Homo sapiens: one gene and its partners. The protein of the gene in region 2 purifies or fractionates together with the protein of the main gene of each other region. This does not show direct contact. Each region holds a gene or a part of one and is shown on either strand. Other genes may lie near its edges.

What was found.
Region 1: the proteins of FGF14 (region 2) and VPS13A purify together in Homo sapiens (affinity purification with mass spectrometry; one large-scale study listed by BioGRID and IntAct). This does not show direct contact.
Region 3: the proteins of FGF14 (region 2) and ANKRD44 purify together in Homo sapiens (affinity purification with mass spectrometry; one large-scale study listed by BioGRID and IntAct). This does not show direct contact.

Annotation. Positions count from the first base shown.
Region 1 is NC_000009.12:77,180,441-77,184,098, forward strand, and holds part of VPS13A (intermembrane lipid transfer protein VPS13A), read left to right. Parts: intron 1-3,658. UniProt on the Homo sapiens protein: Mediates the transfer of lipids between membranes at organelle contact sites. Binds phospholipids. Required for the formation or stabilization of ER-mitochondria contact sites which enable transfer of lipids between the ER and mitochondria.
Region 2 is NC_000013.11:101,724,813-101,728,470, reverse strand, and holds part of FGF14 (fibroblast growth factor 14), read left to right. Parts: intron 1-1,660; coding exon 1,661-1,859; intron 1,860-3,658. UniProt on the Homo sapiens protein: Probably involved in nervous system development and function.
Region 3 is NC_000002.12:197,304,265-197,307,922, forward strand, and holds part of ANKRD44 (serine/threonine-protein phosphatase 6 regulatory ankyrin repeat subunit B), read right to left. Parts: intron 1-3,658. UniProt on the Homo sapiens protein: Putative regulatory subunit of protein phosphatase 6 (PP6) that may be involved in the recognition of phosphoprotein substrates.

The DNA of each region.
Region 1 (3,658 bases), on a different chromosome or scaffold from region 2:
TTTGGGAAAAGCCCAGTTTATAAAACATTTCTTTTATGAATCATGGCTTTTGGTATTCATATCTAAGAAATCTTTTCCCAACCCAAAGTCAAAGATGTTCTCCTGTGTTTTCTTAAGGAAGTTTTGTAGTTTTAGGTTTTGGATTTCTTTTTGTATAAGGTGTGTGATATGTGTTGAAGGTTGAGGTTCATTTGTTTGCATGTGGATGCAAATATCCAATTGTTTAGCACCACTTGCTAAGAAAGAGGATCCTTTCTCTATTGAATTATCTTTGCATTTCGTAAAAAAAAAATCAGTAGACTTAATATTGTGTGGCTTTAGTCTGTCTCAATCTGTGTGTCTATCATTTCACCAATACTACACTGTCTTGATAACTGTGTCTTTGTAGTTAGTCTAGAAATCAGGTAATGTGATCCCTCTAACTTTAGTCTTTAACAAATAATTTAAAAAATAACAAGTCATTGTCCAGGTGTGGTGCTCATTCCTGTAATCCCAGCACTTTGGAAGGCTGAGGCGGGAAGATTGCTTGAGCATAGGAGTTTGAGATTACAGTGAGCTCTGATCATGCCACTGCATTCCAACCTAGGCAACAGACAGCGAGACTCTGTCTCAAAATAAAATAAAATAACATGTCAGTGTTTTATTTATAGAAATTGGTTATGTTTTGATAAATGAAACTTTAAATAATAGCTGGAGTATTTTTTTAAAATATTCTTTGAGAATTTCAAAAGTAGTAATTTGATAAATTTGGAGGATTTTTTAAAAACATTGTTTGAAAATTTCTGTAATAGAAACTAGGTGGCCAGGCATAGTGGCTCATGCCTGTAATCCCAGCACTTTGGGAGACTGGGGAGGGTGGATCACTTCAGACCAGCCTGGCCAATGTGGTGAAACCTCATCTCTACGAAAAAAATAAGATACAAAAATTAGCTGGGTACTGTGGCGCTCGCCTGTAATCCCAGCTACTCAGGAGACTGAGGCAGGAGAATCACTTGAAGCTGGGAGGCATAGGTTGCAGTGAGCTGAGATCACACCATTGCCCTCTAGCCTGGCCAACAGAGCGAGACCCTGCCTCAAAAAAAAAAAAAAAAAAAAAGAAACTGGATGCTGCATAGGAAAATTTTAAGATAATATTTTATGGTCTAACGTGAAGGACCTATTGGTAGTTGTAAATGTGTGCTTTTGCTAGGCTTCTGAAATAATCCAGCAAATTTCAATATTAGCATGTTACTATAATAGTATCAATTAGTATTCAGTCATTGCTAATAATGGATGGTGCTCTGAAAATTTGTTGCTGAGATGGATTCTTTGGAAATCAGAATGCATTTTTCCCATGGAAGCATTCTTATATATGAATGAGGACTTTTCCAAAAACCTGTTTAACTATAATGCAGCAGAAGAGTGCTACTGTACTGGGTTCAATACAGTAAGTAGACTCACTGCTAGAAGACTCTGTCTTACAGGGGATGAAAAAGGAATTGAGCTTCATTCCAGGACTGACTCTTGGCAAATTTTGATGTTGGTAAGGTATACTTTTTATACACTTCTATTTATAATTCTCCCTTCCCATATATCATCTAGTTAGAGAGGTGGTAATATTTCATAGACTCATCTGAAATTTATCTTCCCAACTTTCTCCAGCAATTTTCTTTTTCTTTTTCTTTTCTTTTTGAGACGGAGTCTCGTTCTGTCACCCGGGTGGGAGTGCAGTGACGCGATCTCGGCTCACTGCAACCTCTGTCTCACGGCCTCAAGTGAGTCTCCTGCCTCAGCCTCCCGAGTAGCTGGGATTAAAGGTGCCCACCATCATGCATGGCTAATTTTTGTATTTTTAGTAGGGACGGCATTTCACCACGTCAACCAGGCTGGTCTCGAACGCCTGACCTCAAGTGATCCACCTGCCTTGGCCTCCCAAAGTGCTGGGATTACAGGTGTGAGCCACTGCGTCCGGCCATTTCACATATTTTCTTTAAGAGCTAGGCTGCATCAGAATCAGCCATAGGTGCTTATTATGAATACAGAACCTGCCCCCAGAGATTATAAATTATTTATCTGGAGTAGGACATGAAAATATTTTTTTAAACAAATGACACTGGGGACTTGATGCACAGTTGGGTACATTTTAAGAGAACATTAAGGGGAAAAGTATTAGAATTTTAAATAGACAAAAGCAGTAGTAAAAGTGGCTTGTGTGATAGAATTATCATTTGTAACACAGGAAGTACCTGTACTTCATAGCCCCTTCTTAAGTTAGCCTCCTTTGTCTCTATTTTGTTTTCTCCGAAATCACAATACTTGGACAAATTTGTAATTTTTTTTTGATAATGCCTGACATCTTTATGTAACATTAGAAGTTCAGATTTCTTGTCTATTAACTAACATACGTATTCTGTTTTTGAAATGTTAATCTCCCAGTTTTCCCTTTATAATAGAATCATGTGTTTAGTGGCCACTTAGCTGGATACCGCCATGATACCAGAAGCAGTACAAAAGATGAAGATTCAGTTAGGATACAGTTTTCGATTTTTAAGGAGTCATTCTTCTGTGCCCAGAATACACTAGGGAGCCAAACAAATGATTCTTACAGTCTGGTGTTAATGACCAATTCTAATTCCTTATGTATTATTTTTATATTTATGTTCTAAGATACTTTAATAAAACTTTAAAGACTATGAAACATTTTATTATAAAAAGTGTTAGGAGATTTTACAGTGCCTCTCCATATACCCATTATCTAGATTCTGTCATTAATATTATGTATTAACAGCTTTATTGACGTATAATTAACATGCAGTAAAATACACGTTAAAGTCTACAATTTGATAAGTTTTAGCATATATGTGCATGCAGGTAACAATCATCACATGATAATGAACATATCTGTCATACCTAGAAGTTTCCTTGTGCCTTTTTGTAAACCGTATCTTCTAACCCTCCTTGTCCCTTATACCCTTCTTGTCCCCAGGTTTTTGCTGATTTGCTTTCTGTTACTGCATATTAGCTTGAGTTTTCTAGACTTGGATAAATGGGATTGTACAGTTTGTATTCTTTCAGTCTGGCTTATTTCAGCATAATTATTTTGAGATTCATCCATGTGGTAGTACAATCAATAATTTATTCCTTTTTATTGCTGACCATAGCAAGTGGTGGTGAGGATGTGCAAAAACTGGAACTCTGTTAATATGTCTCCTGGGGATGTAAAATGTTAAACAACTTGGGAAAACAGTTTGGCAATTTCTTAAAAAGTTAAACATACATCAACCATGTTATCAAGCCATTGTGCTTCTACATGTTTACCCAAGAGAAATGAAAGCATATGTTCATACAAAGATTTGCACACAGATGTGCATAGCAGCTTTATTTTTAATAGCCCCAAATGGGAAACAGTCCAAGTATCCACCAACAGGTGAATGGATAAACAAACTGGCATATCCATATAATGGAATACCATTAATATTTAACCACACATGTTTTGTCACATACCTGTCCATCTGTCCATCTCTCTATCCATGCAGCAATTCATATTATTAAATGTATTTCAGAATAAGTTGTAGAGATGAGCTCATTTCCTCCTAAATACTTCAGCATGTGTATCATTAGAGTGCAATATTTGCTTAGTTTTTTTCCTTTTGAGGTAAAATTTATGTAGAAGAAAATA
Region 2 (3,658 bases):
CTCAGTGGACTCTCATTTATTAGTGAGAAAACTAATTGGAGGATATATGGAGATGCAGAACTCAGTAGAAAGCCAGAACATTTATTTGGATGGGATCTTATTCTAATCTGAGGTAGCATCATCAAGAAGAAATAAAGATCTACATAAGTTGCTCCAGGAGGGGGCTAAACCTGTCATTTGGCTATTGTGATTTCATCAAATTGATCACTGTAACTGTCATCTTTGTCTTGAAAAGCATCTGCCACTAACAAAGGCTGTTCCCCTTGGAAAACTATTAGCTCTCAGTGAATGAAAGTTATTCAGCACACTGAATAAATTGTCTCCTGCATGAGACAGCATTTGATAATTCACACTTTTATGGGGAATATTGAAAGGAAATTTCTACATGACATTAGGTCACATTCCTAATTACAGTTAGCATAAAGTCAAGCCCTTAATGTTTTAGTTTTTAGCCCCTAAGGAATATTTTTCAGAACAGGTATACAACATTTTTAGAAGAAAACCAAAAATTATTATTTTCTGCAATAATAAAATCTATTAAAGAAAAATGAAAACTTTGTGTATATTTTTTAGTCCAGTGGTATTTTCAAAAAGATCAAGGACAGTAAGGATCTATTTTCCATCTATATTTTATATACATATAGAATAGCACAGTGTTGGACCTATTTAAAACTAGCTAGGTGTCTTTCATGGTCTATAACCAGACAGGTTGAACTTCAAATTTATTTTTAATAGAGGGCTATCAAAAATGCATATGTAGATTGTACCCTTATTAATTTTTTATTTATTTGGCATGGGATTATATTCATTATTATTCATCCCAAAGTAAGAAGTATATAAAAATCATCTGTGAATATTTCTGACATTAATAATAATTGTAAAGTAGTAAGCTTTGTGCTGCTCATCAATTAATGCAGACCATGGCATTGAGCATAATAGTATTTAACAAACTGTATGCTTTCCAAAAATGCTGTGTGGTTTTTCAGTTGGAGCAGCTTTTGATGTTTATCTTCAAGAGTTCCAACGGGACTCAAACCTTTGGAGCCCCATTGAATTATTTTCAGCTACTGTCACTATGACCAGCTAACATGACACCTAACCTCATCTGGTTATACAATAGCTCTAGTGGCTGGCAAGTAAGCCAGCTGATTGTCTAAGTTTTAGTTTGAGGTTTCAGTTTGTTCCTTTGTAAGTAAAATGTATCACCCTGTGATTTCAGTGATCCAAGGAGCAACTGGCAACTGTAGAGTATTATATCACTGTTCCTATGGAAACATGTAAAATGGATTATAAAATATCTGAAATGTGTATTTTATTTGGTTCACTTTATTGTGAATATCTGATGCTACTTTAATGCTCCCTTTCTGATTATACTCTGGTTGAATTGTCTTCTGTTTAAGTTAAATCTTTAGTTTGCTCATGTATTGTTTTCTTATGATATACTTTTGCTTCTATATATTTTCAATAATAGTAGGTTCTTCTCAATTTATTGTATATTTTAAAAATGTATAGACAATTACTGTGCGCAGGAAGGGGTATATCCGGTCCTCCATGCCAAAGCACTCTTTCACCATGCTGGGAAACTTTCTAGAGAATGAGTAGAATGTACAGTGAAGATCAAGTTCCTTCCTCTAACTTTTGTTTCATTTTCTCTCCACAGGAACTTTTTACCCCTGAATGCAAGTTTAAAGAATCTGTTTTTGAAAATTATTATGTAATCTACTCATCCATGTTGTACAGACAACAGGAATCTGGTAGAGCCTGGTTTTTGGGATTAAATAAGGAAGGGCAAGCTATGAAAGGGAACAGAGTAAAGAAAACCAAACCAGCAGCTCATTTTCTACCCAAGCCATTGGAAGGTGAGTATTATGCATGCATTATTATTACATAGACTTATTACATATTTTATTTTTCAAATTGATAGGTCTACCATGGCTCTAAGAAACCTTCACAAAGTGCTGGAAATGTCATTTATTTTGATCTAGGTGATGGTTGCACAGGTGCCTACTTAAGTTATTGATTTAGAATTTGTGCCCCTTATACACTTTACTATATTTGTGTATGTATGTGTACCAGGAAAAATTTCTTCTCTGCCACCTCCAAAGGCTCAAATCCTCACTGCTACAACCACTCTAACCCTTAGATAATTTAAATTAATTAAGTTAAAACAATTTTAAATCTGTAATGATACAAATCTGCGATGATAAGTATATTAGAAAAAGATAATAAGTATATTAGAAAAAATAAGTTTTGAGCGTGGAATCAAAAGTATTTTCCATTTTGATATTATCTAGGTGAAAGTAATTACCTACTTGTGGATTATTATAATTACAGAAAAATAAGAGATAATAGCTTGACTCTTAAAGAACTTGCTGATATTACACATCTGCTTTCAAATTGTGTAATTCTTCACTGTATACATTTGTAGCATTACTTCTTTTACTAAAATAATTTATCCACATTCATTTGTGTGCAGGAAGGGGTATATCCAGTCATCCATGCCGGATGAATGGAAATTTCACATTTACTCCAATCAGATACCCAAAGAGCAGGCTACAAAGTTTTTTTAATTAATCAACAACATCTGCACCTCTCTCATTAATGATTCTGCCAAAAGTGTCATTTACTTTTATCTATGTAACATTTGAGAATTACAAAAATATTTGATTTTAGGATATTCACATGTGTTTCTATTCAAGTTCTTTTGTTTACTCTTTTGCAGAAGATCAGATCTACAATAACTCAGTAAATATTTTAAGCTAGCTTGGACAGCTCAATTTTCTTTTTGTGTTTTATTCCTACAGGAAAGGCTTAGCCATCACGAGAAAATGCATATTGTTTTCATAATGCATATTCTCTATATTGAAATAAAATAATTTAAAAATTTGAACAGTCAATTCTTCATCATCTGTGAGTGTATAATTTTCAATTTGCCTAAATTCAGAAAATCGCTCTTGTTGGCTAATACTACTTCTGTAATTTCAATGATGTTGACTTAGTGTCACTCTTAATTATATTTTTCTGTAGAACAATTTATTGAAACCCAAACAGTTAGCTACCAGGGCCTATACAGGAAAAGACAGATTATTCCAGAGTCTGAAATATGAGTGAATTATTCTCAGTATATGGTGGATCATAAGGATGATTAGAGTAGAAAGAAGTTAGAGGATTTCCCTGTTCCTCCCAAAAAAAACACATCCATGATACACTTTCATTGTTTTAAATAAATTTTGATAACATTGGACTCACCTATATTTAAATGCAAATAAAAAATTAAAAAATAAGCCCACAGAAGCTCTAATAAGACCATTGTTTATTTGCCACCGTGCTTTATCTCTTTTCACTCATTTTATGTTTTGTAAATAGTTAAGAATTGACTAGATTTTTAGAACCTTACCCTTTAGCTGCATAAATGTAACAAAACCCAAAAGGGCTGTTATGTCATTTAACCGAGGTAAAATTTGGGAACCAGTTATTTTGCATATCTCATAGAAAATATCTGAGACAACAATGATGTGGTATAGAATGATACTTGGTATTTCACTCATGTATTTGTTATGTGTATATGAGTGTTTTGTGTGTATATATACATATATATATATGAGAAAGAGAGAAATAATACTTTTTATGTTTTCAAAAAATTAGCAGAAGTACTCTA
Region 3 (3,658 bases), on a different chromosome or scaffold from region 2:
GATTGCACCACTATACTCCAGCCTGGGAAACAGAGCGAGACTCTGTCCCAAAAAAATAAAAATACAGAATAAATAAAATGGGTAATCTTAGATTATCTATGAATTGAAGTAGGGTGGAGAATAGGAATTAGTCCTAAGTCATTGACATGGGTTAAAATCCTTCTCTGGAACTTGAAGCTGTTTGACTTTGTTACCTGGAAAGCCTTATTAGAGCTCATCTGCAAATACACCCTTCATAGGCACATTTGTAAGAAATGCTATAACACAAACCATGTGAAGAGCATCGGTCTCCATTACAGGCACCAAGTCACAGAAGGGAGAGGGCAGAGCTGAGGCACCATAAAGGCATCCAGTCCAACCTCTTCATTTTACAAAGAGAAACCTGAAGCCTACAGAGGTTAACATGTCTTGCCAAGGGTTGGCTAATGTACAACATATGTCACTTCTCCCTTCCCGTGTACCCATAGCAAACACTGGTAATCAATCACACTTTCTCGGATCCTTGACTGCAAGAGTCAGAATGTTTCTATCACATTACACCTGCAAGTCCTGGACCGATCAGAACTCATGTGTGACATGGAAGCTGTTTCCCAACTCTGCACAAGGTCATAAAACAATCTTTGTAATACCTGCACCACTGTAGACCTGACTCAAAAGAGACAGAGTAGTCTGCTAGTCAAACTAGTTTACTGTCACTGTCAAGCCTGTGGTGAGCAAACATGGAGTCTATGTGAATATATGATGACCACATATCCAGGTTTACCCAGGACAGTCCTGGCTCACGTCTATTTGTGGCTTCATATTGAGTAGTATCACCTATGATTCTCAAACGGATAAAAATGATATAGTCATCCTAGTTCTGTGTAGTTCCTAATCATTCACAAACATTTATAAATGTTGTTTCATACATGATGTGTCAGGAAAAAAAACAAAAACAACAACAAAAAACACTTAACCAATCACCAGGAGTTTTCTCATACAAAGGGGCTTTCAAATAATACTAAACCCAACCAGTTTTCAAGAGGGACTCAGGGACCACTGTCCAAGCCAATCTTTTTTATATATTGAGCTTCAATATGAAATTTCTTCGGGGGAAAAAAGGAGTGTCATAGCTTAAACAAATTTGGAAATCACAAAATTATCAGATCTCTGTAGCTCTGCCTGTTTTTAAATTATTTCGTGCTATACTTTAGCCTATAAAAATTCACATTATCTTGTAGAAATACAAATCTTTTTAAAGAATCTTTCATTTCTGTTTCTGGTACAAACAATTTGTGCCTTTTTGAGTTCGTATTTGCTCTCTGTTTACAGCAAAAGAGGAAGTAAAAAGTTGAAATCTTAAAAAAGAAAGAAAGAAAGAAAAGAAAAAGAAAAAAGTTAGTTCCATTAATCCAGAGCTAGAGCTTATGTGCTGGCGTTGGCTAAAGAGCCAATCATATATGTAAGAGAAGAATAAGTTTATTTGGAAAAGTCATTGGTGTAGAGAACACAGATATCAGCTATGTGCACAAGTGAAAGGTAATGATATTATCACACGAAAAGTTTAAAAATTTTAACTGGCTACCCAGACAGAAGACTAGAAGGAAACATATCAAAATGTCAAGAATAGTTATCTCTTGAGTATACAGGCTTCAGATGGTTTTAAAATTTTTTGGTTTGCTCATCTAGCTTTCTGCTTTTCCTATAATGACCGCAGTTCGTTTTATATATATATATATATATATATATGAAAAAAATCACTGAACTACCAACACATCATTCACCGGGGTGAGGAAATGGAGAGGCTAATGGGAAAAGCCAGGTATAAGCCAGGCAGGGGCAGAGGCCTCAGAGCAGCTCCTTACTATGTACAGAAATGGGTCTGGCCCAAGAGGCAGAAGGAGTTCAGGGAACGCTGTTCATCCAATGGCTTCTCTGTAAACAAGATCAGACACCCATTAATCCCATGGCTGCACTGCCCTTTCAACTATGAAAAGTATAGCCTTGTGGTCAGAGCCCCACCTGTGCAATCAGACTGCCAGGGTAGGACAGTGTGCTAGATCACTTACTGGGCGTATGACCCTAAACCGGTCAATTAGCCTCTCTATTCCTGTTTTCTCATCCATAAAATAGAAATCACACCACCACCTACCTCCTAGTGTGGCTATGAGGATTAAGACATGATTCACTGCAAAGGCCCAGTATACAATAAGAGCACAATAAATGTGTGACATTATTAGGTCTCTGCCATGAAACACCAGCCTCAAGTGCACTCTCAAAACCATGTGATTGGGTCCTGAAACAACCAGAAAAGGTTCTAAATAAAGCCTTTCTTTTCCCTTCTTCTATGCTGAAGACAGGACTACAGCATACTGTTTGCTTTAACACCAGTGCTCTAGGGAGCCATGGAAGAACAAGGGCAGCCCAGTAAAATATGTAACACGTCCCAAGGCCCCACACTATGGGCTAGAAATCCTGCTCCCAAAGTTACACAGGATTTCTAGTCTCTTGCCACTGCCACCGCTGCCAGCCACTGCCTTTGGCAAGAAGGTAGGTGACTCAAGTGTGAACTAGGACTTGGCAAGGGAACACCAAACCAGAAGGCCTCCAGGCAGGAAGCTCCAAAAAGGCCACCTGCTGAAACAGTTTGTCTGCAGGCAGCCTCCGAGATGAAAGTAGTGTTCTGCCATCATTAACAAATGCAGGTAAGAATAGTGGACACTTTAAACATGCAACAGAACTTACCATCCTAGCTTCATAACTCTGAAAATAAATTTCGGGTAGAGATCCAGGCTGAAGATACGACCACACACTTAAAATGACTACAGTGCCTTTAACTATATGACATAAAGAACACCCTAAAACAGTCAATATCAAATCAATTTTCAAAAAGGTTTCATGGCTATCTTTGAGTCAAATGCCTTAGATCTGTATTTAACAAAATTTTCTTTCCCAAACTTAAAATTATCTCACTTTACCAAAAAATATAAAACTCCTAATGTCCACATACAAGGAACTAATTACATTATTATATTAATGACATAGTTGAGGATGTTCTATGTTACACAGGGTAACCAGTTCCTCCCAGTTTGCCTGGAATTTTCCCGGTTTTAGCCCCATATGCTGGGACACCAGTCAATCTGCACAAACCAGGATGGTTAGTGCCCCCTAAGGCTGCAATAAAAATTATGTGTGCCCTGTGAAGAGGAAAACAGAAGGGACACTGTTACAAAAGTTACAAATGCAGAAGTGCTAAATGCCAAGTTTGTTTGTTTGTAGTGATAGCTCCCAGTTCCTTTTTTACAGTGAAAAAAAAAAAAAAAAGACTAAAAATTACACTGGTCTCTCCCTTTTTCTTTTTACTCTCCTGAAAAAAAAAGAGTTAGGAAAAAACATTTTCCTTCTCTTACAAGATTGAGAGGTCACTACAGGACTGACTGCTGAAGTAGTGTCTGCTTCACCTAGCAAGCTCCTGCACCCAGCTTTAGCTGGAGAGAAAATGTCATCATCTGTCACCCCTGACTTTTGCCACATTTAAAGACAAATCCAGACAATTTGTGTTTCAGGTTATCAACAGTAAAAAATCCAAGAGGCCTAGCAAAAATCAAGATTCACTTCACAAATAGGGCATTCAACAGATGAGGTGCCAGGCACAGTGGCTCATGCCTGTAATCCCAGC